7 linked regions of the Homo sapiens genome follow. The protein of the gene in region 6 purifies or fractionates together with the protein of the main gene of each other region. This does not show direct contact. Each region holds a gene or a part of one and is shown on either strand. Other genes may lie near its edges.

What was found.
Region 1: the proteins of L3MBTL2 (region 6) and HDAC2 purify together in Homo sapiens (affinity purification with mass spectrometry; 3 studies listed by BioGRID and IntAct, with this or other methods). This does not show direct contact.
Region 2: the proteins of L3MBTL2 (region 6) and MTA1 purify together in Homo sapiens (affinity purification with mass spectrometry; 2 studies listed by BioGRID and IntAct, with this or other methods). This does not show direct contact.
Region 3: the proteins of L3MBTL2 (region 6) and MGA purify together in Homo sapiens (affinity purification with mass spectrometry; 4 studies listed by BioGRID and IntAct, with this or other methods). This does not show direct contact.
Region 4: the proteins of L3MBTL2 (region 6) and TFDP2 purify together in Homo sapiens (affinity purification with mass spectrometry; 3 studies listed by BioGRID and IntAct, with this or other methods). This does not show direct contact.
Region 5: the proteins of L3MBTL2 (region 6) and LIN54 purify together in Homo sapiens (affinity purification with mass spectrometry; 4 studies listed by BioGRID and IntAct, with this or other methods). This does not show direct contact.
Region 7: the proteins of L3MBTL2 (region 6) and ITPRID2 purify together in Homo sapiens (affinity purification with mass spectrometry; 2 studies listed by BioGRID and IntAct, with this or other methods). This does not show direct contact.

What each region holds. Positions count from the first base shown.
Region 1 is NC_000006.12:113,964,448-113,968,651, reverse strand, and holds part of HDAC2 (histone deacetylase 2), read left to right. Parts: exon of another isoform or gene 1-18; intron 19-4,204. UniProt on the Homo sapiens protein: Histone deacetylase that catalyzes the deacetylation of lysine residues on the N-terminal part of the core histones (H2A, H2B, H3 and H4).
Region 2 is NC_000014.9:105,443,685-105,447,888, forward strand, and holds part of MTA1 (metastasis-associated protein MTA1), read left to right. Parts: intron 1-1,733; coding exon 1,734-1,827; intron 1,828-4,204. UniProt on the Homo sapiens protein: Transcriptional coregulator which can act as both a transcriptional corepressor and coactivator. Acts as a component of the histone deacetylase NuRD complex which participates in the remodeling of chromatin.
Region 3 is NC_000015.10:41,746,984-41,751,187, reverse strand, and holds part of MGA (MAX gene-associated protein), read right to left. Parts: intron 2,552-4,204; coding exon 2,261-2,551; intron 2,078-2,260; coding exon 573-2,077; coding exon of another isoform or gene 570-572; intron 1-569. UniProt on the Homo sapiens protein: Functions as a dual-specificity transcription factor, regulating the expression of both MAX-network and T-box family target genes. Functions as a repressor or an activator.
Region 4 is NC_000003.12:141,943,643-141,947,655, reverse strand, and holds the end of TFDP2 (transcription factor Dp-2), read left to right. Parts: 3' UTR 1-2,617; coding exon of another isoform or gene 2,618-2,646; 3' UTR 2,647-3,228; downstream 3,229-4,013. UniProt on the Homo sapiens protein: Can stimulate E2F-dependent transcription.
Region 5 is NC_000004.12:82,983,070-82,987,273, forward strand, and holds part of LIN54 (protein lin-54 homolog), read right to left. Parts: intron 1,808-4,204; 5' UTR 1,776-1,807; coding exon 1,092-1,775; intron 1-1,091. UniProt on the Homo sapiens protein: Component of the DREAM complex, a multiprotein complex that can both act as a transcription activator or repressor depending on the context. In G0 phase, the complex binds to more than 800 promoters and is required for repression of E2F target genes.
Region 6 is NC_000022.11:41,211,597-41,215,800, forward strand, and holds part of L3MBTL2 (lethal(3)malignant brain tumor-like protein 2), read left to right. Parts: intron 1-2,033; exon of another isoform or gene 2,034-2,296; coding exon 2,297-2,430; exon of another isoform or gene 2,431-3,107; intron 3,108-4,204. UniProt on the Homo sapiens protein: Putative Polycomb group (PcG) protein. PcG proteins maintain the transcriptionally repressive state of genes, probably via a modification of chromatin, rendering it heritably changed in its expressibility.
Region 7 is NC_000002.12:181,918,801-181,923,004, reverse strand, and holds part of ITPRID2 (protein ITPRID2), read right to left. Parts: coding exon 4,123-4,204; intron 3,710-4,122; coding exon 3,559-3,709; intron 2,409-3,558; coding exon 2,343-2,408; intron 1,058-2,342; coding exon 593-1,057; intron 1-592.

The sequences.
Region 1 (4,204 bases), on a different chromosome or scaffold from region 6:
ATAGTTTGGAAATCTCTGGTGGGTTATTTTGTCTTTTGTCTGTGACTCGTTTGTTAAAGTGGAGTTCCTAGTTGCTTATGTTTCACATACTCTTTTAATTTTTGTGGGAGGGAATTAAAATATTTTGCAGAGATTATTAATGTTTATATTATGCTAATTATTAATATGTGATAGTGTGCTGACCTCATCCAAAAACTTATATTTTTATTACCAGAGAACATTGTTTTGTCAGCTTACAAAAGTAGCAATACTAATTCTTTTTTTATTGTGAGAAGAGAATGCAAGGAAAGGAGCTTCTGTATCAAAGAATCGTGACTTTAAGGTATATAACATGGATTGGATTGGGAATGGGTTATATCTGTAGTAATAGGGTCTGAATTATCTGCTAGCCTAGGTTAGATGGTTTTAACTTCTTGGTAAAGGAAGTAGAAGGAAGAAAGTGAGTGAAAAAGAAAAGGACGGAAGTAGCAAATTCTATAACCATAGGAATCCTACCTTTAGGCTTCCTGGGGCTGTTAGGCACACGGAGCCTCTTGGCCACACAGAATGTCTGCCACTGAGGCTGTTTGCATCTTAATGAAAGAACTTTTAAATATATACATATTGTTCTCTGCACGTTATGTAATCTTCAGGTAACCCTTTAGGTCACTGAAACGTTGGTCCCAAGGGAACCTTCAGACATTGATGGATTAGGTATCCTTAAACCTTTGAAGAAAAGTAAGAGAAGTTATTACTTCTCTGACTGTAGCTATTGATCCATGCCTCCAAATTCCCAAAAACATACTTCTGAATCATGTTCCTTCTTTATACACTAGAAGATCATCAAGAATCTGTAAAATGATACAGCTAATTAGATAGTCACTAAGATCCCTTCTGGGCCTTAAAACGATGTGATTTTTCTCTACTTAAATATAATTAGCAGCTAAGCTGTGTTAGGCTCTAGTTATACCACTCACATTTTTAATACTGTATCTAGACATGTTTATGCTTTGTTTTGAATTAATCTTGAGGCCAAACATATTTAGTGCTTGTTTTTATGGTGTATACAGTATAATAGGGTTTATATACCTAATTTATGTAACTATACACAAATTTCTCTGTGCTCTATTTTTTCCTCCTCTGAGAGGGATGCATAATCAGTTTTGGAGACAAGTGGTCCAGAAAAAAACACTCAAAGACTGTATACAGATAAAACTATATAAATACAAAAGTTATCAAGATTAGGCCAGGTGTGGTGGCTCATGCCTATAATCTCAGCACTTTGGGAGACTGAGGCAGGCAAATCACCTGAGGTCGGGAGTTTGAGAAGAGCCTGGCCAACATGGCGAAACCCCGTCTCTACTAAAAATACAAAAATTAGCCAGGCGTGGTGGCAGGCACCAGTAGTCCCAGTTACTCGGGAGGCTGAGGCAGGAGAATGGCTTGAACCCAGGAGGTGCAGGTTGCAGTGAGCCAAGATAGTGCCATGGGCAACAAGAGCGAAACTCCGTCTCAAAAAAAAAAGTTACCAAGATGATACCTCCCAACGTACTCCTTCTTCAGCAAATTATAGAAATTCTACTTGGCAGCCAACGATTGTCAGATTTTCTTAGACTTGTATTTATGAGTAGTACCAAAGTCTTTTGCTGAATAACCTTTAATACAACTACATGGGTTCTTAGCTGTGGTATAAATCTTTATTATCCGTGAAATAGGTAATAATTTCTTTGGAGGCAAATAAGTGCTAAATTAATTATAGCAGCAGTTCATAAATACCAGTAATACTAATTGCACAATAAAACATGACTAAATAAGACTGAAATTTTCCTATACTTCTCTTTCCCCAGAAATCTTTTGCCTCTCTTTTCTTTCAAATTTTACCTCATCAGAGATGCTTTCTCCTATTACCTAAGTCCCTGTTATTGCCTTATTTTTCTTCCTTTTGGTTGTACCATATAACTTTTGTCTCTCTCCTCACTATAACATAAGCTTCATTAGGACAGTCTGTCTGTTTTGCTTGTGTTTGTATCTTCGCCAACTACATTTAAAAACGTAGCTTTTTTTTTTAATTAGTGATGAATAAATTATTAATTCCTTATACTTTTTTTTTTTTTTTGAGATGGAATTTTGCTCTTATTGCCCAGGCTGGAGTGCAGTGGCGTGATCCCAGCTCACTGCAACCTCCACTACCCTCCCGGGTTCAAGTGATTCTCTTGCCTCAGCCTCCCAAGTAGTTGAGATTACAGGCACGTGCCACCACCCCTGGCTAATTTTTGTATTTTTTAGTAGAGATGGGGGTTTTACCATGTTGGCCAGGCTGGTCTCGAACTCCTGACCTGGGGTGATCCACCCACCTCAGCCTCCCTAAGTGCTGGGATTACAGGCGTGAGCCACTGTGCCTGGCCAATTCCTTATTCTTATAGATAGAACGCTTTCATATAACGTTCCCTCTAATTCTTGAAACTACTCTGAACTACATTTAGGTAGGATGGGTGGCATTTTGGCATTTTTGGTATTGTTTAGATGAAAACAGATTCACATTTGTTTGGTGCAGTCTACCACTTTTCCTTTTCCACACTGACTGTAGTTTTAATGTTCAAGGAGAGTTCAACATCCGGAATCTTTATTTTTCTTTTTTCCTTTTCAAAGTGTTTCCTCTGCTACCAAACAAACAAAACTCCTTAACAAAAACTTTAAATGCTTCTGTTGACAAGTCCTTAAAGGAAAACACTTGGGATTGGAGAAGGCATCTCTTAGGGAATGTTAATAAATTCAAACTTGGAAGAATTCAAATCAAGTCTAAGGATTTTTTTGTACTGGTTATTAAGCCTTATTCCTCTGTATTTCAGTAGCAGTCTGCTTATTGTTACTTGTTCATTAAGCCAGCTTTGGGTTCAGACATATCAAATAGGCTTAAAGTTCCTACTGTGTGCCAAATAGACAAAAGATTGCTCAAGTCCTAAGAAGGAAATAAAAGACTGCAGGTATAAAGTAAGAGAGGGGGCCGGGTGCAGTGGCTCACGCCTATAATCCCAGCACTTTGGGAAGCCGAGGCGGGCAGATCACAAGGTCAGGAGTTTGAGACCAGCCTGGCCAACATGGCGAAACCCTCTCTCTACTAAAAATACAAAAAAAAGTTAGCTGGGCATGGTGACGGGTGCCTGTAATCCCAGCTACTTGGGAGGCTGAGGCAGGAGAATCGCTTGAACCCGGGAGGCAGAGAGGTTGCAGTGAGCCGAGATCATGCCATTGCACTCCAGCCTGGGTGGGTGGCAAGAGCAAGACTCTGTCTCAAAAAAAAAAACAAAAAAAGTAAAAGAGAGGGGACCTTTGATAGTGTAATCAGAAAAGGGAAGACCTGAAGGAAGAGAATGGGCCAGCCTTAAAAAGAGTTTACTACATAAGATATTACAAATAGCAAAGCCAGATAGTTATTAATAGAACTTGGTGCACTTAATGGGAAGGAAGACAAGGAAAATGTGGAGTCCCATGTTAGGCAGTAAAAAGTGGGACTGCACAAAACTGTGTAGTAAGAAATTTGACTTTACCCAGAGGTGGAAAGCCATTGAAAGTTTCTCAAATAGAATGCATTCTCTCAAAATAATTGGTAAGGAGTTGTGGAATATAGGCTGGAAGCAAGAATTGAACACATATTGGTCCATATAAAATGTAATGGTTGCATTTTAGATAGAAATAGACATATTTAAGAGAGATTTGGGCCTCAAACCAATAGAACTTTTTGATGGATTAGAAATGGAGTTGGAGCTGAGGAATGGTGTTAGAGAATGAAGGATGACTCCTAAGTTTCTGGATTGAGCAGTTAGGTGGTATGTGGTACTACTCACTAAGATTGGGAATACAAATAAAGAGCTCTGTTTTGAACATCTTATATTTGAGATCCTTATTGAATTCAAGTGAAAAGACTGAGAAGAGAGTTAACCTCTGTGAGTTTATAATCCAGAGAGGAGAGTCTAGACATAGAAATTTGGGATTTCTCAGCTTATATCAGGTGAAGTATTGAGACTGAAAAAGATACAGCATAGACAGACGACTGGTCCCAGGACTTAACTCCCGAGAGAAGAGAATTTAGGGCAGAACTATTGTTCACTGATGAACCCAAACCCTTAGAACAGTACCTGCTTGGCACATGGTAGGCTCTTGATTTATTAAATGAATGGCTGAACTGAAAACCCTTGATGTTTAAAGGTTGGTGGAGGAGTGGCCT
Region 2 (4,204 bases), on a different chromosome or scaffold from region 6:
TCCTGTAATCCTAGCACTCTGGGAGGCCAAGGCGGGCAGATTGCTGGAGTCCAGGAGTTCAAGATTAGCCTGAGCAATGTGGTGAAACCCCGTCTCTACAAAAAATTTAAAAATTAGCCAGGTTGGCTGGGTGCGGTGGCTCATGCCTGTAATCCCAGCACTTTGGGAGGCTGAGGCGGGTGGGTCACGAGGTCAGGAGATAGAGACCATCCTGGCCAACATGGTAAAACCCCGTCTCTACTAAAAATACAAAAATGAGCCGGTGTGGTGGTGGGTGCCTATAGTTCCAGCTACTCAGGAGGCTGAGGCAGGAGAATCGCTTGAACCCGGGAGGTGGAGGTTGCAGTGAGCTGAGATCGCACCACTGCCCTCCAGCCTGGGCGACAGAGTGAGACTCCATCTAAAAAGGCCGGGTGCGGTGGCTCACGCCTGTAACCCCAGCACTTTGAGAGACCAAGACGGGCGGATCACGAGGTCAGGAGATCGAGGCCATCCTGGCTAACACGGTGAAACCCAGTCTCTACTAAAAAATACAAAAAAATTAGCCGGGCGTGGTGGTGGGCGCCTGTAGTCCCAGCTACTCGGGAGGCTGAGGCAGGAGAATGGCGTGAACCCAGGAGGCGGAGCTTGCAGTGAGCCGAGATTGCACCACTGCACTCCAGCCTGGGCGACAGAGCAAGACTCTGTCTCAAAAAAAAAGCCAGGCATGGTGTAATTGGACTGTGGTCCTGGGAGATGGAGGCTGCAGTGACCTGACATCACACTGCTGCATTCTAGTCTGGGCAACAGAGTGAGACCCTATCTCAAAAAATTAAAAAGTTAGGTGAGGCTGGGTGCTGTTTACACCTGTAATCCCAGCACTTTGTGGGGCTGAGGCAGGCAGATTGCTTGAGGTCAGGGGTTCCAGACCAGCCTGGCCAACATGGCAAAACCCTGTCTCTACTGAAAATACAAAAATTAGCTGGTCGTGGTGGCTCACGCTTGTAATCTCAGCTACCTGGGAGGCTGAGGCAGGAGAATCACTTGAACCCAGGAGGCAGAGGTTGCAGTGAGCCAAGATCACAACACTGCACTCCAGCCTGGGCGACAGAGTGAGACCCCATCTTAAAAAAAAAAAAAAAAAGAGTTATAAATAGTATTCCATTAGGCACTTGCACTGTGATTAGAATTACAGCACAATTCTTGCAGTAGCAAAGATGTTATAAAAACTCGTTCAGAAAACATACGTGCTTCTCTGGTGGCGTTTTACAGCCGTCTTGACTTGGAGACGTTTGTCAGCCAGGCCAGGTGGGAGGGCTGGTCCCATGCGGGGGGTCCAGGCTGCGTCCGCCGCTAGGGCCGTGGCTGCTGTGCAGGTCACCCCAGAGGGGCTGGGATAGCTGGGCGTGGCCTCCCAGGAGCTGACTGAGGTCCTACCCAGTGTGGCGGGGGCCTTTTCCTCCTTGGGACCCTGCTGTTCTCAGGTGGTACACTGGGGTCTGGAAGGGAGGGAGAATGGAGACACAGGTTGAGGTTGGGTGCACACGCCCGCCTTCTCCCCTGGGATAGACGCCACGGGCGTCCAGAGCTGCAGGATTTGCTCCATTTGTGAAGTGCCCTCCTGGAGTCCCGAGGGGTGGTGTGGTTACACCTGCAGTCCCTGGACGGCAGGGTCCGGCCTTGGAGCCCCTCCTGGGAGCTGTGCAGCCCGGGTTTGGTCGCGTTTCTCAGACGCCCCTGCCTTGCTGTTACAGACGGCCAATGGGAACGTGGAGGCCAAAGTGGTGTGCTTCTACCGGAGGCGGGACATCTCCAGCACCCTCATCGCCCTGGCCGACAAGCACGCAAGTGAGTCCGGCCTTCCCTGGGGTGCCCGCCTGGCGGGAGGGTCGGCTGGGGAGGGCTGGCGGGGTCCTTCTTCCCTAGGGCCCATCGGCATCCTGGCCTCGTGGGGCCACCCTCTGCCCAACTCACTCTGGCGTCTCTTTTTCTCCCTTCCACAGTGGGCGGGGGTGTCCTGGCTCCGTTTCCTCGGGGGCTGGGTGAATGAAGTCCTCGCACGCCCCCCGGAGTGGTCTGTCTCTCACTGGCATCCTCTGCAAGCTTGTCATGGTGTGGCTGGGTGTGGGCATCATTGATCGAGGCTTCTTTTTCCCTTCTATGATGACTTCTGGAGACTTTCCAGGCTGGTGGGACCCTGCTGCCTGCACTTGCCAATGTCTCTCTCTTTTTAATTTTGCGGAGAGGCTTCTGTTGGGATTCTGAGTAGTGTTTTCAGGAAAGCAGTCCTCTCCTTATTCTTTACGATTCAAACCCAAGTTTAGTAACCTGGCTGGGAGGGGCTGCTGTGGCCAGCACAGCGTGTGGGAGGAAGCCACTGGCTGCATGGGAATGCCCTCAGCCTTGGGGACCCAGCTTCTCCCCCGGGAACAGGTGCTCGCAGGTGGTGGAGTCTCCTGTGCCGGGGGATGTTGACTTCAGAGCCAGGAGCCAGAGGCACCCCCACGCCCTCCACATGCTACTGACACAGGGCCTGCCGAGCTGGGCCCCACCTGCACCAGACACAGTGTGGTACCCCACTGAGGCCCTTCATGTGTCGGTGGGGGCAGGCATGAGGGGCATTTTTGGCTTCCACTCTGACACATCACCTGGGGTGGGATCTGAGCCCAGGCTGAGGCTGTGGTCTGTAGGGTGACATTTCCCAGTAGGTGAGGCATGTGACTGCCCGGGTACCCGTGTCGCTGGGGTGGGCCAAGGTCCCACCTGTAACCTCCCACGACCCCTAATGGGGTGAGGTCCAGGGACTGTGGGTTTGCGGTGGGTCGGGTGGGAGGACCCTCGCATCTTCTGCCCCGTCCCAGCGCTGTGGGTGAGGGGCAGGAAGTCAGCCCAGGCAACCTCCCCCTGCTCTGGGAGGGGCTTAGGGACAGGACAGACCATCCTGCCACCGATGCCTTGTTCCTGAGCCTTTGCTGGGAGTCGGCCAGGGCAGGCGCTTGTGGAAGGAAGGTGTCCCTTAACCCCACTGCCTTGCCCACCGGACAGCTGGGACCTTTCCTCAGCAACCAGTGGATGCGGACGTGAGCTGCCCTGGGTCAGTGCAGCTGGGCCGGGCCCCCGAGCCTGGGTCCACTCTGGACACTGGGCTGTGGGGCCTGTGGCTGGCCCAAAGGGAGCTGCCAGTTGACCATGGGCTTTCTCTGGCTTTGTGAGGAACTGGACCTCCTAGCTCTCTGCTCAGAGGAGGGGAGCGTTCAAGGTGGGGCATGGTGATCCTTGACCTCTGACCCCAAAGCCTGTGTACTCCACTGCTGCACTCGGCGGGCTCCAGGCACCAAGGAGGAGAGCTGGGGATGTTGAAGGTCCACAGGCTACACATTCTGGAGGGGTGTTTGGTGTGGCCCTTGGCCCTGCAGGTGCTGGGTGCCAGTCAGCAGCACGGCTGGCGGTTCTTAGTGTTGGAGGCTGGCCTATGTCGACTCTGCAGGGCTGGCCCGCTGGAGAAGCAGTGGTGGGGAGCGGCCTGGCTCGCTGGAGAAGCAGTGGTGGGGAGCGGGCTGGCCCGCTGGAGAAGCAGTGCCCAGGCTGAGCGGCCGCAGTGTGGCCCTGCCAGTCTGTGTGGCCTGGGGAGTCAGGCGCCACCGTTGAGTTGGGCATGTTTATGGCTGGCCCAGGGTGGATCCTGTCTCTGTCCTCTGGCACCTGGGGGCACAGTGTCCCTGCTCCAGAGAGCCTGTATCAGTGGTTTAGTGGTTTTTGAGGGTACTGTGGCCCCCTTGGCTGAGGTTCTGCTCTCAGACGCCCCAGAGGATGGCCTTTTGCTGGAAGAGCCCCAGAAGGGGACTCCAGACATAACGTGATTAGAGGTATCAGAGGGCAGGTTTTCCAGAAGGGCCTCGTTGGGGCTGATAGGACTGGGTGGAGAGCAGTGTCCCAGCTCGAGCACTGGCCCCCCCAGGTACACAGCACAGCCCCTTTGGACGGTGCTCCCTGGAAAGCTGCGTGGCGGCCCCTCTGCAGGGCGTTCCTATGAACTGAGAGCCCAGCTGCAGGGAGCAGGCGTCATGGGTGATGGGTCTGCCGCTGGTCCAGGGACTCAGAGCGCGGCCCCACTCTTGCCTGGCGGCTGGGCCTTGCGGTGATTCTGCAGGGCCCACACCCCCCGGGGTTGTGTCAATCTCCGTTTCTCCTGCTTCTCTGTGAGCTCATGGCAGCCAGGGTGAGG
Region 3 (4,204 bases), on a different chromosome or scaffold from region 6:
ATATTACAAAGGACGAAGACCAAAGTCTAGAATATAAATTCCAGAGACTAAATATTTAATTTTTGGATATAAAAGCAACTCAAGGCAAAATGGTACTAGAATATGATGGTATTTTCCAGTTTTTCTCCAAAAACAAAAACATCTCTCTATATGCAAGTGAATAAGTTCTCCTCTAGTTCTAAGGTCACCCATTCCCAGTTTCTGATTAACATCTACCAGAGAAGCTACAACCACCTCACATAGAAAACGTCATAGAAATTGACTGAGGTCAAATGGGAGTAGTGGTTTCGGGATTTTAAAAATCTAACTCGGTAGGGACTCTCAAGCACCTATCCCCCAAATATTTAAGCCAGCCTTCCCATAAAACCAGACAAGTCTCAAAGAATAAAAGCTCAATAAATGATGCTTGATTGACACAGCCTAAAGAACTACTAAGCCATTTAAGTCATAATCTTAAACCTAGGCATCCAATTAAATGTATTATGCCTTAGTGCTCTTCTGAAAAAGCTTCTGTCTTTAATAAATCATTTAAATCCTTTAGGTTTCAGTCACAACAAAAATGGGCTCACCACCTTTTCTACATCATCAACCTCCTCACTCTGGTAGTCAGAAACAACATCCACAATTTCATCAATAGAATCATCAGTTTTCTCATTATCATCTTCATCATCTTCTTCCAAATCCAAAACAGTGAAGTCAGCACTGCTTCTCCCACCCTTCTTCTCTTGCTTTGGTTGTATCTGTTCTCCAGGTAGCAGTAAGTGACCCTGAAAATGTCCATTCCCTCTGCTGCTTTTTGCAGCTCTCCTAGGAACAATGGAGAAGGCTGAAGGATTAGAAATCCTACTCCAAGAATCACATTCAGTTTTCAAAACTCTGGCATCTTCAGTAATTCCACTTTTTCCAAGTAAGTCAGAGATGCCTTGTTCTTGCTGAAACACATCTGAATTTTCCTGACATGTCTTTGTTTCTTTAATTAACTGCTCGTCTGCCTCTTTCTTACATTCCTGTGAAGCTCCAACACATTTCCTGGTTAAGGGGCCCTTCAGATGTTTTCTCCATCTTTCCCTGTCTTTCTCCAGAGAGTCTCCACATTCCTTCTCTTTGGCCTCTGGCTGTAGATTAGATTGCTGCTCCATAACTTTGCTTCCTGACAATTCAAATTTACTTTCTTCCTTAAAGGTGACTGGAAATTCACTTGAGTTTTCTTCTGGATTGTCAAATCCTTTCTGCTGTTCCACCTTCACATCACCAAGTTTTTGATGCTGTACTTTACTTAAATTTTGGACTGTCTTATTACTGGCTTTTTCAGAAATGGTCCTAACTTCCAGAACAGCCACTTTTTCTTTGGAACTCTTACGATTCCTAGCCCCATATTCTTCATTAACATCTTTATAATCTTGATCTGTATGTGACCCAGTGATACAGGAATGCTCAGATGGTTTGACAGTTGCACAACCTTCTTCTGGAAGGCATTCTTCATCCAAATGATCACCCCTATCTTCCAAGGAATCATTCAGAGTTTCTTCTGAGGTAGCAGCTCCTGAGTTTTGTTTTATTACATTAGCCTCAGGGTCTACAGCCTCTCCTTCTGACTGTAGAACCTTCTTCGTTTCTTGCTCTCTTTTTATTGAGTTTGTTTCATCTTTCTGGTCTGGATTCTGAGATTCTCTCTTCATCTGAAGGGAAGCAACATGCTGAAGAATGGAGCTAGGAACAGGCTTTTGTCCTGGGAGCTGTAACAAGGCAAAACTACCAGACTGGAGAGGAATAAGACTGGCTGTACCAACAGGCTGTCCTCCTGAGCTATAAGTTATTTTGGTTTCAGAGCCTGTTTTACTTGCAAAGCTTTGTGGTTCAGGAGGAGAAATCCTCAGGGTCAATGTACCAGCCTGAGACACAAAACTAGCTCCAGAGGAAAGCAATGATGGTGCCTGAGTGATAACATTCACTGCTGAAGAAGACCCAACAGCTTGAATTACAGGATTCATGACAGAGAAAGCAGAGGACGAAGTGGAAGATGGCGGAGTCTCAGAGGGTTTGGAAGGAGCAGGTAACCGGATTCCCATCACAGACCCTGGTTTAAAAAATAAGAGAGAAATTTTTAAATCATGACTGCCCATATCAAGACTTCCAATGTTTGCTTTTCTTTTTGGAAAAGTAACTCTTAAGAGATGAAGAAAAACAATCTTGGTGTATTAACATACCATATGGCCAAGTGATTCAACAAAAGAAAAGTTCATAAAAAAGAACTTTATACCTGGGTTCCGAAACATGACAGGCTGTAAGTTGGGCTGGGTATTAGAGCCTCGAAGCTGATGCAAAGGTAGAAGCTGGACAATCTGCCCATTAGGGTGCCTGAATAAGTTCATTCCACTTGGACTCCTAACAGGCTGCAAGACCATCCGATGTCCCTGAAGTTGTGTGTTTGAGACAGGTCTAAGAGTAGGAGAACCCTGCTGCACTGGAATCAACAACAATCGAGGTCCAGCACGTTTCACTGTGTTAGGAGAGACCTGTGGAGTAGCCACTGGAATTTGAGCAGCATTTTCTGAAAAACAGGAAATGGAAACATGGTACCCAAATTCCCCTTTAACACACGTAGGAAAAAAAAGTATTCATAATATTTTTTAAGACACAGTCTTGCTTTGTTGCTCAGGCTGGAGTGCAATGACACAACCTCGACTGACTACAACCTCCGCACCTCCCTAGTTCAAGTGATTCTTCCACTTCAGCATACCGAGTAGCTGCGACTACAGGTGTGCACCAGCACACCTGGCTTATTTCTGTATTTTTGGGTAGAGACAGGGTTTCACCATGTTGGTGAGGCTGGTCTCAAACCCCTGACCTCAAGTGATCTGCCGTTCTCGGCCTCCCAAAGTGCTGAGATTACAGGCGTGAGCCACCGCGCCCAGTCTATATTTTTTTTTTTTTAAAGAGGCAGGGTTGCACTTGTCACCTTCAGTGCAGTAGCTCAATCATAGCTCACTGCAGTCTCAAACTCCTTGGTTCAAGAGATCCTCCTGCCTCAGCCTTCCAAGTAACTGGGACTACAGGGATGTGTCACTACACCTGGCTAATTATGTTATTCTTTGCAGAGACAGGGTCTTGCTTTGTTGCTCAAGCTAGTCTCAAACTCCTGGCCTCAAGTGATCCTGCCATCTCGGCCTTCCAAAGTGCTGGGACTGCAGCCATGAGCCACCATGCCCAGTCATTAAGGCACAGAATCTGACCTTGCTTCAAATAACGTCTAATTTGGATTATAAAGTTGCTGAAATTCTGTAGTTTCATAATACACTATTTATGGCTGAGAACAGCCAGACATTATGGAGCTTTACATTTAGAATGGTAAAAAATAGAGTATCAACTGTCAAGAGGCACATTTAAAGAGATAATACTTTTGCCTAAAGAAAAACATGGTTATCTCTCTAAATCTGGATTCCTGTTAAAGGGATCATTCATGATAAAATTATGCTTCAACTTCATTCTTTTGAGACAGCATCGCACTCTGTCACCCAGGCTAGAGTGCAGTGGTGGGATCACAGCTCACTGCCACCTCGAACTCCCAGGCTCAGCCTCCCAAGTAGCTGGGACCACAGGTGCACGCTTTTTTTTTTTTTTGTGGAGATGGAGTTTGCTATGTTGCCCAGGCTGGTCTGGAACCCCTGGGGCTCAAGCAATCCTCCTGCCTTGGCCTCCTAAAATGTTGGGATTATAGGTATGAGCCAATGTGCCTGGCCTCTTATGTTTTTAAATAAAATCCAGATTCTGCACAATTTAACTTTAAAATTAAAGCTCATAACACTTACTAGAGTTATGGGTCAATTTCTAAGCTTATACCACCTGAGGAAGATAAAGAACTAAAAATCCTTGGTTTATAAAGGGCTTTTGGTTTTTAAAATTCACTAACAAATATGCAAAGCTTAAAGGTTTGTGGGAATTATTTTTCAGAAGGAAAAAATTACTTAAGCCCCCCAAAATGGAATGAAATTAAGAGACATCAAAGAAGCAGGGAAATAAACCTGGCTTAGAAGAGGCAAAAGATGTTTTTAAAACAAAAAGAAAAAGCAGAAATTTAATGCAGAAGATGTGAATTAATAGAGATTTCAAACCATTAATAGTACTTTAAAGATGCCCTTTCCTGATTGGAAGACATATTTCGAAATACTAAAGACATAGGAAAAAACAGTATGAGTAATCTAGA
Region 4 (4,013 bases), on a different chromosome or scaffold from region 6:
AGAAGATTGTCACAAAGATTCACTACTTTCCAACTGAATCTATGCAGTAGAAAAATCATTAGAAAATACAAAAATTAGCCGGGCGTGGTGGCACATGCCTGTAGTCCCAGCTACTCGGGAGGCTGAGGCAGGAGAATCACTTGAACCCAGGAGGCGGAGGTTGCAGTGAGCCAAGATCCCGCCACTGCACTCCAGCCCAGGTGACAGAGCAGGACTCTGTCTCAAAAAAAGAAAAAAGAAAGAAAGAAAAATGATTAGAAATTGAGAACTATTTTACGTGTTTCTAAGTTGTTGGCTACATCAAAGAGATCATCTGTATTCTGCATATGGGCTGGCTTTGGTGAAGCTGATGACTGGACTTCTAAGAACCGTTTTCCCAAATGGGTTCCCATATTCATGCACCCAAAGCAATGGTCCCCAAGCACTGATGAAAACTAATATGCATTTCCCAAAGACCCACACTATGTATCAGGAGCCTGCACCATGCCATTTGAATGACCCTCAGCAATGTGCCTCCCTGCCCTCAAATTCCCAGTTGATAACAGTGTTTGATTAAATTTCCACTCAAGCCAAACATGGTTACTAAGAAGAGAAAAACCTGATGTTTGCATAATATTTTTTTTCCCCTCGAGATGGAGTCTTGCTCTGTTGCCCAGGCTGGAGTGCAGTGGCATGATCTCAGCCACTGCAACCTCTGCCTCCCGGGTTCAAGCGATTCTTCTGCCTCAGCCTCCCAAGTAGTTGGGATTACAGACATGTGCCACCACGCCTGGCTAATTTTTGTATTTTTAGTAGAGACAGGGTTTCACCATGTTGACCACACTGGTCTTGAACTTCTAACCATGTGATCTGCCTGCCTCGGCCTCCCAAAGTGCTGGGATTACAGGCTTGAGCCACCACGCCCAGCCTAAGATTTTATGATTAAAAAAAATTCAAGCTCAATACCCACATAAATTATAACGTTTCTCAGGAAGTAGTCCCTTAACCAAAACGTCTCTGAGAAGTGATGCTTAGGTAATCTCTGGGATCCGATTTTCCCACATGTCTCACTCCACAGTATGCTAAAGAAGAAAAAGTGAGTGGGCACAACACTTTGACCCTCTGGCTAAGCCCTGGGAGTCCCTGACAGGTCCAGAAACTTCTCTGACACCCATTCACCAGGGTGCTGAGATAGGAGAAAGTGCTCATTTATAATGTGTATTCTGTGCAGCTGTTCTCAGACAAGACCGGATCTTGTCATCTTACCTTTTGCTTTACAAAAAAGGCCTGTTGAAGTCAATGCTGTCTTGCCCCTTGCTGTTTCAGCAGGTTAGACTTTGGTCTTCACTGCTTATAGCTGCATTGGAGGCCAACGTAGCTGATGCTCAGGGTCAGGCCTCGCCCCTTCGCCGCAGGTCTCAGGATCGGGGATAACATCGCTCCCACCCTGCTCATTTAGAGATGGGAAACAAGCAAGAGCTTGACTTGCCTCCCATCCCTCAGCCTGTCTGTGGCAGAGCCTGCACCAAAACCCAGAGCTTCTTCCCTCCGTGAGGGCCACGCTGTCACCACAGTCCTCCCAGATGGGTTTTGGATTAGCATCAGTCCTGTGTCACCAAGTGCCAAACAGCTGAGGGGTAGAAGTGGGACTCCTTTCCCGAGCCCCAGCATGAGGCTGTGGTGTCAGGTTTAGGCCTCTCTCAAGTCAGAAAACCCCGGGCTGAGACCTCCACAGACAAGGGCTCCCCATGCTGGCCATTGGCAGGGGCCCAAGAAGTTCAGTGACCAACTGGTCCTTCCACACCACACCAGCTGGTGCTGCCCATGTCTGTCGAATCATAACGGAAAATTCCCCAGATCACGTTTGGATTTAAAAACTCATCCCTTGTCGTGCTTCAATGCATGCCATTTGTCACTTACCATACTTCACCATGGCCGAGCTTCATGTCACATGGCCTGGCGATTGTGCTTGTTCACACTGGGGCCAGGATTTTCATACTAAAACGTCACTGACAATGGGGCTACTTTTCTCCTGAATAGCTCCTCTGGGCTTGTTGCAGTTCTAGTTTTCCCAGTAGTTCCATGGCAGGTTCAACCTCTCAGTGTCCTGAAAAATGGAACCACCCACTAACCATATGCACTGGCTGCCCAGGTGGCTGCACTCCGGGGATCACGTTTCAGTACTGAGTTCCTTCACGCACTTGGTTCACCACCATCACTCTTGAGTTTTGGACAAAAGAGGTGGGTATGCCAGGCACAGTGGCTCACGCCTGTGATCCCAGCACTTTGGGAGGCCGAGGCGGGCGGATCACCTGAGGTCGGGAGTTCGAAACCAGCCTGACCAACATGGAGAAACCCTGTCTCTACTAAAAATATAAAATTAGCCGGGTGTGGTGGCGCATGCCTGTAATCCCAGCTACTCGGGAGGCTGAGGCAGGAGAATCTCTTGAACCCAGGAGGCAAAAGTTGCAATGAGCTGAGATCGTGCCATTTGCACTCCAGCCTGGGCAACAAGAGCGAAATTCCATCTCAAAAAAAAAAGGTGGGTAAAGGGCCATGAGCCCAAACCACTAGGTTGTTCACCTTTTCATCTGAAAATGCTTTACTCTGACTATGTGCTATTGGGTTTTATTTCCAGAAAATATAGTTCTCCTTTTTTCTGCATGAAGGATACATCGTGGTGCCACATGCTTTAAGCAATTTAAACAAGAGAGATAAGAGGAAAATGCAACCACCACATCTGACTTGCCCAATGTAGACTTTCCTTTATTAGATTGAAGTACACAACCTAATATGATATATTATTTTGTAGTATCTCAGACTTTGTAAATAAATGCCATTATTTTTATATGGAAATTTTATAGAAGAGCTATTTCTGTATACGTAATTACTCCTGATTTTCTGAAATTGCTTCTGGTAGATAACAGACAAGTCCTAAGCAGTGTTCCACTAAGGGTGGTTCCAGGCCTGCCTGCCGTGGAGTTGACTGGGGGAATTTTACAGTTTTGCGATCCTAGGATGCGTCCCAGACGCTCAGTCAGAAGTGCTGGAGGTGGGGCCTGGGAAGCTGTATTTGTAATGAACTCTGGTGTTTTTTGTCCATTAAAGTGTATCTTTGTCCATCCTATAAGATTAAAGGAAAGAAAAAGCATCTCAAATGAGTGTAAGTTGTTCTTGAGAAAAAAATGTATCAGACTTTTATGATTTGAATGAAATGTATTATAGAAAAAAATAAACACTTTAAAATAATGTTAGTCTCATTACTAGTGGGTCAGGATATTTTTAGTTAAAAAAGGAGGTGTTAGGCCATGCGCAGTGGCTCACGCCTATAACCCCAGCACTTTGGGAGGCCAAGGTGGTCGTATCATTTGAGGTCAGGAGTTCAAGACTAGCCTGGCCAACATGGTGAGATCCCGTCACCACTAAAACTACAAAAATGAGCTGGGTGTGGTGGCATGCGCCTGTAATCCCAGCAACTTGGCGCAGGAGAATCGCTTGAACCTGGGAGGCGGAAGTTGCAGTGAGCTGAGATCACACCACTGCAGTCCAGCCTGGGCAACAGAGTGAGACTCCATCTCAAAAAAAAAAAAAAAAGCCTTTTTTTTGTTTTTGTTTGTGAGATGGAGTCTCTGTTGCCCAGGCTAGAGTGCAGTGGTGCAATCTTGGCTCACTGCAACCCCCACCTCCCAGATTCAAGGGATTCTCCTGCCTCAGCCTCTGGAGTACCTGGGATTACAGGCACGTGCCACCACACCCGGCTTATTTTTGTATTTTTTTTTTTTTTTTTTGAGACGGAGTCTCGCTCTGTCACCCAGGCTGGAGTGCAGTGGCGCAGTCTCGGCTCACTGCAAGCTCCGCCTCCCGGGTTCACGCCATTCTCCTGCCTCAGCCTCTCCGAGTAGCTGGGACTACAGGCGCCCGCCACCACGCCCGGCTAATTTTTTTTTATTTTTAGTAGAGACGGGGTTTCACCGTGGTCTCGATCTCCTGACCTCGTGATCCACCCGCCTCGGCCTCCCAAAGTGCTGGGATTA
Region 5 (4,204 bases), on a different chromosome or scaffold from region 6:
CGATCTCGGCTCACTGCAACCTCTGCCTCCCGGGTTCAACCGATTCTCCTGTCTCAGCCTCCTGAGTAGCTGGGATTATAGGCACTCGCCACCATGCCTGGCTAATTTTTTGTATTTTTAGTAGAGATGAGGTTTCACCATGTTGGGCAGGCTAGTCTCAAACTCCTGACCTCAGGTGATCCGCCCACCTCAGCCTGCCAAAGTGCTGGGTGGGATTACAGGCTTAAGCCACCACGCCCCGCCGATCACTGCATTTCCAAGAGTAGTGGTGGCCTAAGAAAGCCTATTTGGGCATGATAAACTGGAAATCACTTAATATATATTCCAGTAACCTTCTTTCTTAGGGTCCTATTCATACTAATAATAGGTACCATTATGAAACATCCTCAATATTTTGAGAATTATACTACACATTTCATCTTGATCAAAAAGTATTCTTAAGATAAAGTCAAAAACTCAGAGAAGATAAGTAACCTACGAAAGTTTTCCATAACTGGTAGGATAAGATAGAGGCAACTCAAGCCCAGTTGGTACAACTCTAAAGCCTGTATGTTATCTTCCATCACATGTCACTGTCTTTTCCATAGTACAAACATGAATAATGGCAATGAACAGTAAACTCCAAATAAAAGGCACACGCTGGCTGACACGCACTATTACTGGCTCTGAGGGTTTCTCAGAGCAACAAAGTTCTCCTAGCCTTTGGCCATCTGTGAACTGAAAAAAAAAAATGTTGTCTACATGATTTTTTTGATAGCCCAGCAGCAAGTCTGGCATATTTATACCAGCAAAACATCCTTGTAATCAAACTACCACTAAGAATAAAATGCATTTTAAAATTAGTAAAAGGCTATAAATATACTAATTTGGAATTTAACCAAAATTAAGTTTGCTTTCTAAGTTATCTGGTAAAAATTTTCATAAGCATTAGACATATCAAACTTAAAAACACACACACACAATTACATAAAACAACATTCAAAAGAATTCAGTAACAACTATGTATTTAGTAACCCTATAAACACAACTATGAATCAGTTAAATTTTTTTAAACATGCATTTTAATTAGTAAGCCCCCTTTTTTCTTTTACCTGTACTGTTTTTAACTGTTGGGTCTGTAACACAGAGGGCTGAGTTGTAGTATTAATCAGTTGACTTCCTGGGGTCAATGCTGAGACACCAATGACAGGTTTCACCTCTGGCCTCCCTCCAATGGTAACTACTTTAATTTGCTGCGGTGGTAACTTAGCATCTCCTGACTGGGCCTGAGTTGTAACTTTCTGAGCCTGGGGTAGTTGGCTATGGGGTAGTGCTAAAACAATTGGTGAACCAGACTTGCCCAAAGTTGTTAAAATTAACTTCTGTCCATCTGGTTTAAGGGTCTGATTGCCAAGTTTAAGATCAGATGTCTGTGATACTTTGTTTAAAATAATCTGATTGGCTGATATAGTCACAGGAGTCTGAGCACCAAGTTTTTGAAGGCCACTTGGAAAAGCTGGTTTCACTGTGGTATTAGAATCTGCTTTAGTAATTGTGGTATTCACTGCAACTTGGTTAGTGTGGTTACTGTACACTGTGATTGGTTCCGTGGAAATGGGCGTGGCTGTAGAGTCACCAGTAGAATTTATGTTGACAATTTCTTCCAGTTCTGTCTCCATGGGAATTGGGGATGAAACAATAACAGCCTCAATACTATCATCATCCACTAAAGTTATACCAGTGTCCATTATTTCCTCTGGAAGCAAACTATTCACCTCAGCTGGCACCACCTCCATGATCGTTCTCCCGCTAGAAAGTTGATCAGGCACTGTAATAAAAGTTGAAAAATGAACAAGTTACTAGGTTTCAAAAGATGTAAGAAAAAAATTCAAAAAAAATGCAAATGGCAAAATGACAATTTTTAAATTGATATATAATTGAATGAAGAATATTCCTGAAGCTTATCTGGGTTAAATCATGTTAACACATCCTCAACCTGCAAGAATCTATAATATAAGTCATATGGGAACACAAAACTAGAAGCAAACATTCTTACTCTCGTCTCAATCCACAAGTATCTTGCACTCAGGCAACACTAAGTCACATAATCACATGAAACTCCTTTCCAACGCCCTCTAATAAAATTTGTAATCTTTGATGTATCTGATCTTATTTCTACCCAGATTTTTTTCCTCTCATTGACAGACTTGAAAACTGCTGATTCACACAAGGAAATAAAGATTTAAATATTAACATATTGTAAAATACATTCAAATCTCCAATGAGCTACGTCCTAATATGAGTGTACTATCCCATTTTAAAAATCCATTAAATACCCAAATTAAAGTTAAAGGAGTTTCTAGAGTAATACATCTCAGCAATTGCAGATCAAATAGCATTTGTGGTACAACTTTGACCAACTAGCTTCATACCAGGGAAATTTTTATTTGGAAAGAAGATTCTCAAACCCTCCTTGGCCATTTACTTACTTACTTAATTAATTAATTATTGAGACGGAGTCTCACTCTGTTGCCAAGGCTGAAGTGCAGTGGCACAATCTCAGCTCACTGCAACCTCCGCTTCCTGGGTTCAAGCAATTCTCCTGCCTCAGCCTCCTGAGTAGCTGGAATTACAGGCGCCTGCCACCAAGCCGGGCTAATTTTTGTACTTTTAGTAGAGACAGGGTTTTGCCATGTTGGCCAGGCTGGTCTCGAACTCCTAACCTCGGGTGATCCACCTGCCTCGGCCTCCCAAAGTACTGGGATTACAGGCGTGAGCCACCGTGCCTGGCCATCCTCCGCCATTTAAAGTGTCAAAAAGAACCATTTAAGAGATGTACAGCCAATCCCCATGAAGAAAAAAAGTAATAATCATAAAGCAGATTACGAAAAACTTTGAGCTGTGGTACTTTTAGCCAAAGGTCTGTAGAACTTCCAATAAAGGAATCAATTTTATTATCTTCATGTATAAAAGACAGCACATCATGTTTATGACAGACTAAATAGCAGTGAGTTATTTGCCCAGAGAACATCAAAGATCCATAGGAACCAAATCAGCAACTTTCTTCTCTTCCTTTTCGTTTTTGAGACAGAGTCTCGCTCTTGTTACCCAGGCTGGAGTGCAGTGGCGCAATCTCGGCTCACCGCAACCTCCACCTCCCAGGTTCAAGCGATTCTCCTGCCTCAGCCTCCCAAGTAGCTGGGATTACAGGCATGTGCCACCACGCCCAGCTAATTTTTTGTATTTTTAGTAGAGACAAGGTTTCTCCATGTTGGTCAGGCTGGTCTCAAACTCCCAACCTCAGGTGATCTGCCCACGCTGGCCTCCCAAAGTGCTGGGATTATAGGTGTGAGCCACCATGCCCGGCCCCCTTTTTTTAAATATAAAAATACACCACCCCGGCTGGGCATTCTGGCAGATCACGAGGTAGGCAGATCACAAGGTCAAGAGATGGAGACGATCCTGGCCAACATGGTGAAACCCCGTCTCAACTAAAAATACAAAAATTAGCTGGGCATGGTGGCATGCACCTATAGTCCCAGCTACTCAGGAGGCTGAGGCAGAAGAATCACTTGAACCTGGGAGGCAGAGGTTGCAATGAGCCGAGATCGTGCCACTGCACTTGAGCCGGGCGACAGAGCGAGACCCCATCTCAAAAAAAAAAAAAAAAAAAAAAAAGATACAACACCCATCCAAAATTAACACACAAGTAGCAAATTACAACTATTAGCATTGGCAAATACTACTACCACCAAAATAAACCATCATTATTGAGTGCTTACAACACTGATGACGTAATTTAATTTATCCTCACAACAACTCAGAAATGGGAATCATCATTATCCCTGTTTTATAGATGAGGCCATTTAGAAAGGTTAATTTGCCTAAGGTCACATAGCTAGTAAATGGTAGAGCCAGGACTCCAGCTCAGGTTTTTAATATGCCACAGTTAATTATCTTGGCTGGGCACACTGGCTCTTACCTGTAATCCCAGCACTTTGGGAGGCCGAGGTGGGCAGATCACCTGAGGTCAGGTGTTCGAGACCAGCCTGGCCAACATGGCAAAACCCCATCTCTACTAAAAATACAAAAATTAGCTAGGCGTGGTGGTGGGTGCTTGTAATTCCAGCTACTCAGAAGGCTGAAGCACAATAATCGCTTGAAGCCGGGAGGCGGAGGTTGCAGTGAGCCAAGATCGTGCCACTGCACTCCAGCCTGGGCAACA
Region 6 (4,204 bases):
CCCAGGCTGGAATGCAGTGACATGATCTTGGCTCACTGCAAGTTCCGCCTCCCAGGTTCAAGCCATTCTCCTGCCTCAGCCTCCCCAGCAGCTGGGACTACAGGCGCCTGCCACCACACCCGGCTAATTTTTTTTGTATTTTAGTAGAGACGGGGTTTCACCATGTTAGCCAGGATGGTCTCGATCTCCTGACCTTGTGATCTGCCCTCCTCGGCCTCCAAAAATGCTGGGATTACAGGCGTGAGCCACCGCACCCGGCCTTTTTTTTTTTTTTTTTTTTTTTTTGAAACAGAGTCTCGCTGTGTCACCCAGGCCGGAACGCAGTGGCACGATCTTGGCTCACTGCAAGCTCCGCCTCCCGGGTTCACGCCATTCTCCTGCCTCAGCCTCCCAAGTAGCTGGGACTACAGGCGCCCTCCGCCATGCCCGGCTAATTTTTTGTATTTTTTAGTAGAGACGGGGTTTCACCGTGTTAGCCAGGATGGTCTCAATCTCCTGACTACGTGATCCGCCCGCCTCAGCCTCCCAAAGTGCTGGGATTGCAGGCGTGAGCCACCGCTCCCGGCCTTACTTCCTTTCTATTTATATTGTCTTCTTTTCATCCCTTGCCTTTTATCTTTCTCCCTTCTATCCTCTTCCAGCCCTTCTCTTAGAATCTTAGGATTTAGAACTAGAAGGAACCATTAGAGACCACTTAGACCAGGGGTTCTGCACATTAGAATCATCTAGGGGAGCTTTTAACAAACTACAGGTACCAGTATCCCGTCACAGACCAATTCATTAGAATTTTAGGTTCAGGCTTTTTTTTTTTTTTTTTTGAGACAGCGTTTCACTCTTGTTGCCCAGGCTGGAGTGCAGTGGTGCCATCTCAGCTCACTGCAACCTCCGCCTCCCAGGTTGAAGGGATTCTCCTGCCCCAGCCTCCGGAGTAGCTGGGATTATAGACGCCCACCACCGCGCCCGGCCATCTCAGGCATTTTTAAAAGCTCCCCAGGTGGGTCTAATAGTGAAGTCACGGGCCAGGCATGGTGGCTCACGCCTGTAATCCCAGCACTTTGGGAGGCCGAGGCGGGAGGATCACAAGGTCAGGAGTTCAAGACCAGCCTGCTCAACATGGCGAAACCCCGTCTCTACTAAAGATATAAAAAATTAGCCAGGCGTGGTGGCACATGCCTGTAGTCCCAGCTACTCAAGAGGCTGAGGCAGGAGAATCCCTTGAACCCGGGAGTCGAAGGTTGCAATGAGCCAAGATGGCGCCACTGCACTCCATCCTGGGCAACAAGAGCAAAACTCCATCTCAAAAAAAAAAAAAAGTGAAGTCACGATTAAAACACTGATCTAGCTGGGCGCATTGGCTCACGCCTGTAATCCCAACACTTTGGGAGGCCGACACGGCGGATCACAAGGTCAGGAGATTGAGACCATCCTGGCTAACATGGTGAAACCCCGTCTCTACTAAAAACACAAAAAAATTAGCTGGGTGTGGTGGCAGTGCCTGTAGTCCCAGCTACTCGGGAGGCTGATGCAGGAGAATGGCGTGAACCCGGGAGGCAGAGCTTGCAGTGAGCCAAGATTGCGCCAGTGTACTACTCCAGGCTGGGTGACAGAGCAAGGCTCCGTCTCAAAAATAAATAAATAAAACACTGATCTAGTTCAGTCCCTTTACTATATAGATGAGAAAATAGAGCCACAGAGGTTAAGTGACTTTGGCACTTTTTCTTCCTATAAATTTTTTCGCTTTTTTTTGAGACAGTGTCTTACTTTGTTGCCCAGGCTAGAGGTACAGTGGTGCAGTCATGGCTCACTGCAGCCTCAGCCTCCTGGGCTCAGGCAGTTTCCCCCCGCCAAATCACACCTGGCCTTTTTTTTTTTTTTTTGGGCAACAAGGTCTTGCTATGTTGCCCAGGATGGTCTCAAATTCTTGCCCTCAAGCAATCCTCCCTCCTTGGCCTCCCAAACTGCCGGGATTACAGACAGGAGCTACCATGCCTAGTTTCTTCTCACTTTCCTCTGACAAACTTTTCAACACTCACCTGTTCCCCCAGTCGTCCTCATGGATTTCCATTAGCCCCTCTGTTGACATCTGTAGCCAAGGGAGGCCAAGCAGCAGCACTTCATTCAGGTAGATTCAGGATATACACACCAGTACCTCCCATTCCTCCTCTTATTCCATTAGCCTTTGTGGGGGCAGGGGCTCACCTGGTTAATGCAGTGCCCCAGGTTTTGAAGGGCCCATCACTTTGTTTGCTTTGAGGTGGTCATATCGGGTGAGTCATGTGCTAAGTTCTCTTCCCAGCTGTCTGTGAGATGTGTGGTATCGTGGGTACAAGGGAAGCCTTCTTCTCCAAGACCAAGAGGTTCTGCAGCGTCTCCTGCTCCAGGAGCTACTCCTCCAACTCCAAGAAAGCCAGTATCTTGGCTAGGTTACAGGTGAGAGGCAATCACTTGGATCCTTCCCGGTGCCTTTGGTGCTGAGACAGGAACCACCAAGTGACTGAAGGCCAGGGCCAGGAAAGTTTGAAAAGGTCCTTGCTTGTGGCCAGCTGGTATTTATTATGTTCTCAAACTTCAGAGGACAGTAGAATCCATTTGTGGAGCTTTTTAAATTATAGGTTCCTGAAGCTACGCTCCATTACCTACCATCATCCCCCAGAGTCTGGTGTATTCAGTACATTTTAAACAAGAACTATGGGGGAGTCTGACACCCTTGGTCTTCACCCCACACTTTTATAAATCCTTTCAAAGGAAGTTGGGAAACAGGCCCAAGGTTCACCAGCCACGGTGGCTTCAGGAAGACCATGCCTCCTCGGACTCCATGTCACAGGCAGCTACCTAGAAAGTCTTGCCAATTTTCTAAATTACTGATATTTATAGAATCTTTAGAGATGGAAAGATTCTTGGATGTGGTGTTGAACCCACACATTTATTGATAAGTATACTGAGGTCCAAGGAGGTAGAATGACATACCTAGTGTGGCTCTGTAGGAGGAGAATGGCGGAATTGAGGCTGGAACCTCATCTCAGGGGCCTCATCTTACCTTGTTTCCCAGTAGCTGGGACCAGCATCTGCAACACTGCTTCCCAAATTTGCCTGCATGTTGGGATCACCTGGAAAGTTTAAAAATTATTGATGCTGGTCGGGCACGGTGGCTCACGCCTGTAATCCCAGCACTTTGGGAGACCGAGGCGGGCGGATCACGAGGTCAGGAGATCGAGACCATCCCAGCCAACATGATGAAACCCCGTCTCTACTAAAAATACAAAAATTAGCCAGGCGTGGTGTTGTACGCCTGTAGTCCCAGTTACTCGGGAGGCTGAGGCAGGAGAATCGCTTGAACTTGGGAGGTGGAGGTTGCAGTGAGCCGAGATCGTGCCACTGCACTCCAGCCTGGGGGGAAAATATTATGTAAAATATATTGATGCTTGGGTCCTACTCCGAAAGGTTCTGATTTAACTGGGATGGTGTGTAGCCTGGACAGAGATTGGAAGAGCTCCCAGGTGATCCTAATGTGCAGCGAAGTTTGAGCACCACCGATGTTTATTAGAAATTGCTGTGTCCCAGATCCTTCTGCTTACTGCTTCATACACTGTCGCCTTTGTGAGACAATTACCATTGTTTCCCCATTTTGTAGATTTTACTTAAGGCACCGAAAGATCCCTCTCTTCCGAGAGCTAAGAATAATATTGGTAATATTAATAGCTATGGTTTGGGAGTACTTGCTAAGGGCTTGACATTCTCAGTCCAATTAACGATCTTAAAAAATTTGATTTTTAAAAAAATTCCTTTTTATAAAGGCTCAGAAATTTTAGTAACTTACTTAAAGGTATACAACTAAAAACTGTAGAACTGGGATTTGCCCTGTAGGTTTGTTTGGGACTTAAACCCAGATTTCTGCTTCACTGATCTCTTTAGTAAATTCCTGGCCTTCCTGTTCAGTACTTAAGTTACAAAATACAGACCAGATCAGTGGCCATTCCCTTTGGAAAGGGAGGACCCCCTTTGAGTACCTAATGAAAGCTGTGGGTCCTCTCCCAAACATTCGCCTATGTGGACCCTCTCCCGAACATTCGCCTATGTGGACCCTCTCCCGAACATTCGCCTATGTGGACCCTCTCCCGAACATTCGCCTATGTGGACCCTCTCCCAAACATTCGCGTATGTACAGAAGGTTGCCTCCCAGTTCATGAGCGTTTCTGGGCCCCTG
Region 7 (4,204 bases), on a different chromosome or scaffold from region 6:
ATCAATCTATTTATACTTATTAAAATCACAAAATCATTTTCTCCTATCAATTGTAATTATAAAATGCAGTTTCTTTTTTTTTTGAGATGGAGTCTTGCTCTGCTGCCCAGGCTGGAGTGCAATGGCATGATCTTGGCTCACTGCAACCTCCGCCTCCCAGGTTCAAGCAATTCTCCTACCCCAGCCTCCCGAGTAGCTGGGACTACAGGCACATGCCACCACGTCCAGCTATAAAATGCAGTTTTTAATCCTCGAAGAGATCTAAACTGTAAATCCTCATTTTGTAGATGTGGAAACAAGAGGTCCAAAGAGTACGTCATGTTTATTTTGAGTCCTTCACATATCTTTTTCACCATACTGAACACAGAGAATTGTAATTATTTCACATTAGAGTATGAAATTTGCAGAAATGCCATTACAAATATATCTTAATTGACACAAACTTGATCAACAGGAAAGCTAATTTAAAAGCTCTGTGAAAATTATTGAATACAGTGAATCAAAAGAACATTCTGTAAATAATTAATATTCAGACAAAATCTCCTCTAACATATACCTCCAAATAAATGAATGAAACACAGATTTTACCCACCTCCCGTATGACTTGCTGCAACTCATCTTGCTCCACATTTTTATGCATTTCCTCAGCAGCTGGCATTGATGGGAGTTTTCCATGCCCTTCTTCCACTTCAGATTTAGGTCCTACAACTTCTGGGGCTCCTTCAGCTGCATCAACTTCCTCAGAACTTTCCAAATCTGGAGGTGTCTGCACAGAGCCTGTTCTAGAAGGAGCTGTTGGCGTTAGAGCCACCGATGCTCGGAACACTTTCTTCCTTGCCACTAATGGGGTTTTGGATTTGCCCACTGAGGCAGTAGAAGGTACTCCAGTTCTTCTGTTAGCATGAGAGGGACCAGAACATACAGAAGATGATTCTGATGTTGCTTGGGAAAAAACAGATTCTGAGCTTTCTCCAGGAGGAATTTCAAATCCCATTTCTCCAAGTCCCAGGCCCAATTCAGACTTCAGGTATGACTGCTCCTGCATCAGTTCAGTGACCTGGAGATCATAAAAAAATGTTATTCTTCTCTCTTGGAATTAAGATTGGTAGCTAAAAAGGTTAAAGTCCTGGTTGTCATTATTGCCTAAAATCATGTAATTTGTAAAGACATAAATCTATTCCATTAATTTAATAACTACTCAATTTTATTTGCAAAAATGGTAAGTAAAATTTAAATTCCTATTGAGATGAAGCAACAAAACAGGTAAACAGAATACATAGTAGGATGAAATTTTACTTGTTACCACCAAAGTGTCCAAATCACTTGTAAGGAAGAGTAACTAGTGAAAAATAGTTACTCATAGTGCTTTTGCCCCCAAATGAACCAATCTGTCTAACACAATAAAGACAGATTTCTGTTAAAAACGTGGTCATGTTACAGCTCTAACTACCTAAAGAACCAGGATCAAACTGTGAAAGCACATGTCTCCTGAAATGTAAATTAAAAATCAATTTTCTTTTTTTTTTTGAGATGGAGTCTCACTCTGTCACCCAGGCTGGAGTGCAATGGCTTGATCTCGGCTCACTGCAACCTCCGCCTCCCGGGTTCAAGCAAGTCTCCTGCCTCAGCCTCCCAAGTAGCTGGGATTACAGATGCCTGCCACCATGCCCAGCTAATTTTTGTATTTTTAGTAGAGATGCGGTTTCACCATGTTGGTCAGGCTGGTCTTCAACTCCTGACCTCAGGTGATCCACTTGCCTCAGCCTCCCAAAATGCTGGGATTACAGGCATGAGCCACCACACCTGGCTTATTATTTTTTAAAGACAGGGTCTTGCTCTGTCACCCAGGCTGGAGTGCAGTGGCACAATCATAGCTCACTGTAGCCTTGAGCTCCTGGCCTCAAGCAATCCTCCCGCCTCAGCCTCCTGAGTAACTGGGACTACAGGCACATATCACCATGCCTGGCTGATTTTTAAATTTTCTGTAGAGAAAGGGTCTCATTTTGTTGACTAGGCTGGTCTCAAACTCCTGGCTTGAAGCAATCCTTCCACCTCAACCATTTAAATAAAGTGCTGGGATTACAGGCATGAGCCACTGTACATGTTTTTATGGTGCATTACCTCCTTTAGTCAGAAAGATAAATCACTATTGCAATTCAGGTGGCTTTCTAGTGGCTTCAGACAGCAATGGACTTTCAAAGGTGAAAGTCACTTCCAATCAACAATAATTTATCAAATTATGTATTTAAAATAAACATATATTTCATCTAAACTAGGGAAACTATGTGTCTGAAATGTTGTATCATTCCCTTCCCCAGTGATTTAAGAGGAAAGAAGCTTACTGGTTCCATTACATTCAATGGAGAAGGGCATGACAAGTTATCAGCGCTTCTACTGCCACACATTCCCTGAAAAGGTAAGAACAATATATATATGTATATGTGTGTGTATATATACATACATGCATATATAATTATAATGTACATATATATTTTTTCAAATCACAAGACTTTTATAATAAAATTAATTGGCTAATTAGTGCCTGGAAGCATCCCTTTATGTCACAAAGGTTACTCTCAAGTGTCACAGATCCCATAAAATGCATTATTGTGAGTTAAAACTGATACAATATGCAAAAAGGATGTTCTAGTTCTCCCGTCACCAACATACACTTCTCAGAATGATAAATCAAAACCATGTTGAAAAGTACATTCATTAGCAATACAGAACATCCTTAGTCTATGCTATACATATATGTGTTTATACACCATTGTTTATTCTACTTCATTTATAGTATATACACACATAATTGTATGTGTGTATATTCATCCATTTCTTTTTAACAAAATCAAATACATTGTTAAGGTAACAAAGAATAATTCACTATTTCAGCATTTCAAAGCAACATATTCTACAACTTCAAAGATATTTGCAAAAATAATACAACTGTTGAAGTTCAAATGTTATGGAAAGAAACATTAGAAGTATGAAAAGTGGTACAAAAACATGTTTCTTTTTATTCTCTTGGATATATATCTATATATTTAGGAAAATACATATATGTATGTGTATGTATATATATGTATGAAAATATACAGGTATCATTTGATTCCTTTAAAAACAAATGGAAAAGAATCCAAAATAAAGAAAAAGTTTAAAAGGAACACTTTTTTATTTAAAGGCATGAAAGAAAAAAAAACAGCAAAATATGCATCTGTGTTCTCTGCAGTTACATGCAACAATTAAAATTTACATTAGTCATATGTTAATTCACTAGCATTTTTCCTTTAAAAACCCTCAACTTTCGTATAAGCCCTTATTCTTTCCTGTTATTAAAATTTATCATTAAAAATTTTCAACATATTTCTAAATATACTATTTATGACAATTATTACAAATTGTACATTCAACTGATTTGTGGGAAAGCTCCTTAAACAGTATGCATGCTTTTAATACCATTAAAATAAATGACTTGAAATGAAGGCACACGTCCTAAATTATTGGAACATTATAAATAAACCTTTGGTGAAAACTCCGACCACCCTCCAGGTAGCGTACCATGAGTGCGGAGGAGCGGAAGGGTGAAGGCATGCGCACAGCACGAAGCTGCTCCTCCAGGCCCAGCAGGCGCTCCTCCAGCTGCAGTTCCAGGTCCTGAAGTTCCATTCGGACTGAATTTCTCAAACCCTGGAGCTGATCAACTTCAAACCTATTGGTATGGTGAAGGGCACAAAATTGGAAAAATGCAGTTTGGAGATTCCTAATCACAAATCTTTCAACAACTACTATATGCTAACAGAAGGCATGGAAATCTCAGGTTCTAGAAATTAGTACAATATCAACTACAATAGGTGTATCCACAAGGACATTAGTCTTTCTTCCCCTATCCTCTCACAAATATCTCAAACACGGGAAAGCAGGTTACCACTACCCTTAGGATATTGAAGGCATACAAGTTTACTTAGTAAAACACTATCTATGACTAATCTTATCTACACTGGTTCACAAAACAGATACAAGGTACACAGCAGTAGAATCAAAACCTAATTTTAAAAAATATAAGTTGAGAAGACTTTGAATGAAAAGCTTTTTGAGGTGTGCTAAGACAAAATGAACTTTTACCTCTCCTCCTCAGTCATATGATGATAAACCATGGTTTGCTGACGCAGCATTGCCAATTCTAAATCCATCATTTGTGTTCTAA